2 linked regions of the Homo sapiens genome follow. Changing the gene in region 1 together with any one later gene gives a genetic interaction. Each region holds a gene or a part of one and is shown on either strand. Other genes may lie near its edges. The genes, in order: IARS2 and ATG7.

Region 1 (3,823 bases):
TACCTCAAAAGTCCCAAATTATAGCTCACAAAGAATTATTTTGGGCTAGGCACAGTGGCTTACGCCTTTAATCCCAGCACTTTGGCAGGCCAAGGCAGGCAGATCACTTGAGCCCAGGAATTCCAGACCAGTCTGGGCTACACAACAAGAATTCATCTCTGTAAAATATTTTTTCAAAATTAGCCGGGTGCAGTGGCATGTGCCTATAGTCCCAGCTACTTGGGTGGCCAGGGCAGGAGGATTGCTTGAGCCCGGGAGTTTGAGGCTGCAATGAGCTGACTGGACCACTGCATTCCAGCAGTGGGCAACAGCATGAGACCCTGTCTCTTTAAAAAATAAAATAAAATAAAATTCCTTTGATAGAAGAACTGCTTTCTGAATAATTTTCAGAACTTATTCAATCCTTTATTAAAATTATGTATCGAAAAATAAGTATATGCATTTCCTTTCTTGCTACTTTTATTAAAACAGATAAAAACAATTTTAAAAATTAATTTTGCATAAAATTTTACCAAGTAACTACTGGATATTGCCAGAAATTAGTTTTACCTGTTGTACATTTATCAATATTCATATTTTTCTATACTCCTATCATGCTTAATGTATATTCTCCTTTAGTGTAATCAATGTAAAATGTATTCTAGAAAGGTAGAGGCCATATCTGTTTCAATTCAAAATATGCAGTTCAGCAAAGTAGTAAATTCAAGTCAGCCCAATACTTTGATGACTATGTTGTCAGATATCTAAAAATCTTCACCTGAAAGTGTTGAAATAGTCTCAAATGTTGTTTCCAAAGTAGAAGCAACAGATGCTACTTTATCTGCCGCCAGTACGTAGAGGTCTCCAGACTTAGAACATTTCACAACAGCATACCTAACATAAAATTTTAGGAGAAATTACTAATAATGAAACAAGAAAAGCCACAGATATCATTTTAATTTTTAAATAATCATTTTAGAAAAAACTGACTTCAGGCCAGCGCGGTGGCTCATGTCTATAATCCCAGCACTTTGGGAGGCCAAGGCAGGTGGATCACCTGAGGTTGGGAGTTTGCAACCAGCCTCACCAACATAGAGAAACCCCATCTCTACTAAAAATACAAAATTAGCCTGGCGTGGTGGCGCATGCCTGTAATCCCATAATCCCAGCTACTCGGGAGGCTGAGGCAGGAAAATTGCTTGAACCCGGGAGGTGGAGGTTGTGGTGAGCCAAGATCATGCCACTGTACTCCAGCCTGGGCAACAAAAGGCAAAACTCGGTCTCCAAAAAAAAAAAGAAAAAAGAAAAAACTGACTTCAAGATCAAACTGTACTATTTTCAAAACACTTTGTAACTTATACTTCTATTTCATTTTCCCGAAAAGCTGGATAAGGTCATAAAAAGGATCACCTAAAGGTTAATAAAATCTATATGAACATAATAACTAAGTTATAATTCATTAAATTTTACAATAATAAACAGGATAAAATAAATTCAAAATAATGTTAATAATGGAATACATTCTATTTGTGTATAAAACAAAAAATGCAATAATATACCCACTTTGATTCAGGCATATAGCAAACAGCTTCATTGGCTGGAATCGTCCAAGGTTGTGTGGTCCAGACCAAAATACTAACAGGAGATGAACCATCTGTGAAAATACAATTGTAAATATGTTAGCAAATGGGATAATTCTATAACTTTGGTACACTCAAGCTATGAATAAATCTTACCTATAAGAGATGCCAATTTTGGAGAAGGCTTTAAGAGAGGAAATTTTACATATATTGAACGACTGACATGCTCAGGATTATATTCAAGTTCTGCTTCAGCCAATGCAGTCCTAAGGGTTAAAAATATTAAACATAAATACTTGGAAGCCTCACAAATTTCTCCCTTTTAATTACCGAAAAATGCATATATACCTAGATGACGGAGACCAAAACACAGGTTTGTAAGATCGATAAACCAAGCCCTATAAAAGACAAAAATATGATGTTAAAAGTAGAATCTTGTAACGCATACTAAAACCTACTCAAAGAGAAAAAATACTTCTTTACCTTATCATACATTTGGTAAAAAGTTCTCAACTGTTTGGCTTCATACTTCCCATCAAATGTATAGTAGCAATTATTCCAATCTGCCATTATTCCCCAACGAATAAATGCTGATTTCTGTTTCTCAATGGCTGCTTTAGCAAATGATCTAGCTAAAAAAAAGACGAAAAAAAGATTTTAAAAAACCAATGAATTCGAATTCTTAAACATGGTTTAGCATGTATCTCTCTAAATGCAAATGCTACAGACAGTTTAGAATGCAAATTTTTTTTGAGACACAGTCTCGCTGTCACCCAGGCTAGAGTGCAGTGGCGCGAGTGGCATGATCTCGGCTCACTGCAAGCCTCTGCCTCCCGGGTTCACGCCATTCTCCTGCCTCAGCCTCCTGAGTAGCTGGGACTACAGGCGCCCGCCACCACGCCCGGCTAATTTTTTTGTAGTTTTAGTAGAGACGGGGTTTCACTGTGTCAGCCAGGATGGTCTGGATCTCCTGACCTCGTGATCTACCCGCCTCAGCCTCCCAAAGTGCTGGGATTACAGGCGTGAGCCACGGCGCCCGAGCACAAAATTTTTTTTTTTTGAGATGGAGTCTTGCTCTGTTGCCCAGGTTGGCATGCAGTGGCGGATCTCAGCTCACTGTAACCTCTGCCACACAGGTTCAAGCAATTCTCGTGCCTCAGCCTCCCAAGTATCTGGGACTACAGGCGTGAGCCACCATACCTGGCTAATTATTTGGTATTTTTAGTAGATACGGGGTTTTGCCATGTTGGCCAGGCTGGTCTCAAACTCCTGACCTTAGGTGATCGATCCACCTCCCTCAGCCTCCCAAAGTGCTAGGATTACAGGCATGAGCCACTGTGCCCAGCCTATAAAAATTTTTTAATAGAAAAATAATTTGAAGGTCAACAGTGTTCAGAAGATACCTACAACAAATTCTAAAATTAACTGGAATTGCAAAAGTTAAAATTTTATTACTGTCTTCTGTATTTTCCAGACTTTATACAATGACCTCATATTTAGGACAAATAAACTGGAAAAATTATTCCTTATTGTTTCTTAATTTAAGAAAAGGTCAGATAACAATTTTCATTTCATTATACACAAAAAATTAATCAGAATATCAAATCTAAGCCAATGATAATAGGTTTCACAAGGAAGTAAAAAAATCTTCACAGTTACATCCAAATGTACAATAGTATAACATATAAGAAAAAGAGAATCCTCCCTTGGCCCAGTCGACTGAAGAAAAAGGATCAAATAAAAGATTAATGTAAAATATATGTATTTTAGAATTGAATTTTGGCTTAACACCTAAAATCAGTCAACAAGCCCCCTTGAGGAAAGCAGAAAAAAGAATTTACCAAAAAATAGTTTTTTAAAATATGAACATTAAGAAACTGAGAATGCAATCAGAAATGCTCACAAAGTCTTTCCTTCAATATCCAAACATAAGTTCTTACAAAAATCAATGAAATAAAATCTGAATTTTCTGTGACAGAAAGGCGTTTCCAATAGATCTTATTATAAGCAAACGAAACCCAAACAAAAGGTTCCTTTGGTAAAGTTCTGACTATTTCAAGGACCTGAGTGTTTACAAATATCATTTTAAAACAGAAATACAGATTATTTACCTTTCTTTCTAATTTCCATAGCTGAAAGATTCTGAGCTTCTCTACCAAGTTCTGATAATACTTTTATTTCAATGGGCAACCCATGACAATCCCAGCCGGGCACAAAATGTATTTTGGAGCCATTCATCATATGGAATCGATTGGCTATGTCTT
Region 2 (3,823 bases), on another chromosome or scaffold:
TCAGCCTCCTGAGCACCTGGGACTACAGGCATCCCATCACACCTGGCTAATGTTTGTCTTTTAATAGATATGGGGTTTTGCCATGTTGGCCAGGCTGGTCTTCAACACCTGGGCTCAAGCAATCTGTCCACCTCAGCCTCCCAAAGTGCTGGGATTACAGGCATGAGCCACCCTGCCTGGTCTGTAAAGTCATTTTGAAGATGTAGTGCACAGTAATTTTCCAGGTTTTCAGTGGTATTTGGTGAAATGCTAAGCCAGTAAGGGGGAATTATAGGAATATTTTGAAACACTGAAAGAATTTACCAAAATGTGGTCTTCATTTTCAATGTGGGGAAACATAAGGCAGTATAGTCTGGGAAAGAGTCTTTGAAACAAAACAGAAGGCATTCTCCTACCCTTGTACCAAGTTGCAGAACTTTTCTACCTGGAGCAGTACATGCAGAGTTAGTCGGTGACATTTGGGATAGATAATAAGTTCATTAGAGATGGTTCCCAGAAGAGCAGTTAAAATAATCAGGCTGGTATAACAGAGACCCTAAACTAGAGAATTCTTATTGTTGTTAAGGCAAAGATTATGTGTCAAGATGATTTGAATTCTTGAAACACATCAATCACTAAAGCCCTGAATACTGATGCCATCATTCAGGGAGCTCTCTTGGAGCTGTTCAGGGAGCAGCCATTATTGATTAAATTTTTTTTGTTGTTGTTCGTACAAATCCGAGGTTGTGGTTTTGTGGAACTAATTTCCCAAGAGGAAATATAAGTAAGGAAAAAGGATTTTGGCTGAGTATTGACTGCTGGCAGGTATGGGGTTTCTTTTATTGAGGACAAAAATGTTCTGTAATTATTGCTGTGGTGCTTGCATAACCCTGTGAACATACTAAAAAAACAAACAGCACATTGCATTATGTACTTTAAATGGGTGAATTGGGCCAGGCACGGTGGCTCACAACTATAGTGTAATTCCAGCACTTTGGAACGCAGAGGTGAGCATACCACTTGAGCTCAGGAGTTCAAGACCAGCCTGGGCAATATCGTGAAACCCCATCGCTATAAAAAATACCAAAAAAGTTAGCTGAGCCATGGTGGTGTGTGCCTGTGGTCCCAGCTACTCAGGAGGCTGAGGTAGGAGGATTGATTGAGCCCAGGAGGTCGAGGCTGCAGTGAGCTGTGATTGCCTGGGTGACAGAGCAAGACCCTGTCTCAAAAAGTAGTAAATGGGTGAGTTGTATGGTATGTTAGTCATGTCTCAGTAAAGCTGTTGAAGATTATGGAAAGGTTCGGGGTAAAATTCATCAGGGGTAGATTCATGTTGGGTTATCATAGGAGAGAAAGAATGTTTCGTTACCGCTCTAAAACTCTGATTGACAGCTTAGGGAACTACCATGTTGTAGTCCCTTTGTGCCCCTAAGACACACACCACCATGCCCCTGGAAAGTGTTATATAAAAGCTAAGTGGTATTATTTGGAGGCACTTCTATGTTCACTTGCTGTAATAGAGTAAGAGGAGTGTGATCAGTCATTTCTAGTCTTCTGGTTTTAAGGTACCTTTTTTTTGAGTTAGTTTTTAGCCCAGAACTAGAAATGTAATTTTCTAGAGAATAACAACGTGTTTTCTGTTTTCAGATTGAAGCACTAGAGTGTGCATATGATAATCTTTGTCAAACAGAAGGAGTCACAGCTCTTCCTTACTTCTTAATCAAGTATGATGAGAACATGGTGCTGGTTTCCTTGCTTAAACACTACAGTGATTTCTTCCAAGGTCAAAGGACGAAGGTCAGATAAACTTTGAGTATCATTTTATTATATAGTTTTTTAAAAAATCTGAAGTTCATGTTACAAGAGACCACTGCAAAATTCAAACTTGTTTAGATTTCCTTAGCCTTCAAAGGATGTTTAAGAACATTTCCTTATCTCTATCCTCTCCCACCCCTACAGTTATCGAATCAGCTCCTCTAGGTTTTTCTAGCTCTACTACAGCTCAGAATAATTTTGATACCTTACTCTTTTTTTTTGTTTGTTTGTTTGAGATGGAGTCTCGCACTGTTGCCTGGGCTGGAGCGCAGTGGCGCAATCTTGGCTTACTGCAACCTCTGCCTTCCTGGTTCAAGCGATTCTCCTGGTCAGCCTCCCGAGTAGCTGGGACTATAGGTGCCCGCCACCATGCCTGGCTAATTTTTTGTATTTTTAGTAGAGACAGAGACGAGGTTTCACTATGTTGGCCAGGTTGGTCTTGAATGCGTGACCTGCTTCGGCCTCCCAAACTGCTGGGATTATAGGTGTGAGCCACTGTGCCCAGCCAATACCTTACTCTCTATTAGTGCTAAAGTTATTTCCGTTTTCCCTCCTGATGTATTTTACCCTCTATGTTTTAATTTTTATTCCCAGAACTACCCTGTAGTTCAGGCCCCTCATATCACACTCCTGGACACTTAGAATCTTGTTTCCATGTTGTGCAACACTACTGTAGAAGAATCTCCCTTGAACTACCCACATTTAGTGTATCATTCATTGACCAAGAGCATAATGGTGTCTTCCTTCTGGCTCCAAGCTGCCTTTCCTGCCTTATCTTCCATTATTTTCCTCATAAAGCATTGCTCCAGCTAATCTTATCTATTTTTCTCCAGAATCTCCATCCCCTTCCCGTCAGATACATCTAAAACTTTTTTTGTATCTTTGTTTTTCCTCGTGTTGTATCATCTTCCTAAAACATGTTCTACTTGTGAAAACCCTAAGAAATTCTCTCTGTCTTATTGAAATTCTATCTCCACTGTGAAGCATTATCATGGTGTGGCCATATATGATCTATCCCTATCTGAAGTCACTGCATTTATTCCCTGATCCTCATTTGCAGGTCCAGTACCTTGTACAAGTTTCTTTTTGTGCCATATTAGACTGTAAGCTCCAAGAGGGCAGGGCCCAAGTCTTATGAATTTGTGTCTGCATAGTGTCTAGTACTTGTCTGAGGCCCTCAATAAAATTCTTTTGAGTGAATGAAAGAGTACCGTAAATGTCTTTTAGAAGTGATCAGATATATAGGAAGTTGTCTTAGCCATACAGGAGACTATGAATTAAAAATATCAAAGATTATGAGTGTTATGAAGTTCTGAAATCAAATGGAATCATCTCCATAGCCATGTGAATATATCAGAGCTGAAAAAAGGAAAGCCTTTAACTGACGGTCTGGTTATTCTTTAGCCTGAACTTAGGATGACTTTTTTTTTTAAAAGCACATTTTAAAATCAACTACATTTACATTTTATTTTTCAGAGGAAGCCCACCTCCCCTTTTTTGTTGTATTTTTATTAGAGATGGGGTTTCACCGTGTTAGCCAGGATGGTCTTGATCTCCTGGCCTTGTGATCCGCCCACCTCGGCCTCCCAAAGTGCTGAGATTACAGGCGTGAGCCACCACTCCTGGCCCAGAGGAAGCCCTTTTTAAATTGAGGACTGAAGATTGAATTTTTATTAAAATTCTTTCCCCCAGGTGATTTCACAGAACCACAGCTAAATTAGTATAGCAATAAGACCGTTAATAATTTAAAGTCCAATCTAGTGTGAAGTCCTCTTGTCATAGCAGGCAGGATTAAATGGCCTGTGTTTGGAAGCGACCGTAGGTCAGGTTGTATGTGGTAAATAAGTGGTCCTCCCCAAAGTGCAGCTCTGCCAAAATAATAACAGTTTGAACAGTGCTTTACAATTAATTTAAAAGGGACTTTCACATACTTGATCTTTTTATGATAAGTCTGTGAAACAAGCGTTAGTTACTACCTGTGGTTAGTTAATTAGTATCTGCATTTTCTGTTTGAGACTCAAAGTCACAC

The links.
Region 2: of IARS2 (region 1) and ATG7, changing one enhances a phenotype caused by changing the other (phenotypic enhancement), as found in Homo sapiens cells (one large-scale study listed by BioGRID).

Annotation. Positions count from the first base shown.
Region 1 is NC_000001.11:220,100,497-220,104,319, reverse strand, and holds part of IARS2 (isoleucine--tRNA ligase, mitochondrial precursor), read right to left. Parts: coding exon 3,671-3,823; intron 2,192-3,670; coding exon 2,043-2,191; intron 1,958-2,042; coding exon 1,908-1,957; intron 1,826-1,907; coding exon 1,716-1,825; intron 1,634-1,715; coding exon 1,543-1,633; intron 874-1,542; coding exon 758-873; intron 1-757.
Region 2 is NC_000003.12:11,313,718-11,317,540, forward strand, and holds part of ATG7 (ubiquitin-like modifier-activating enzyme ATG7), read left to right. Parts: intron 1-1,626; coding exon 1,627-1,776; intron 1,777-3,823. UniProt on the Homo sapiens protein: E1-like activating enzyme involved in the 2 ubiquitin-like systems required for cytoplasm to vacuole transport (Cvt) and autophagy.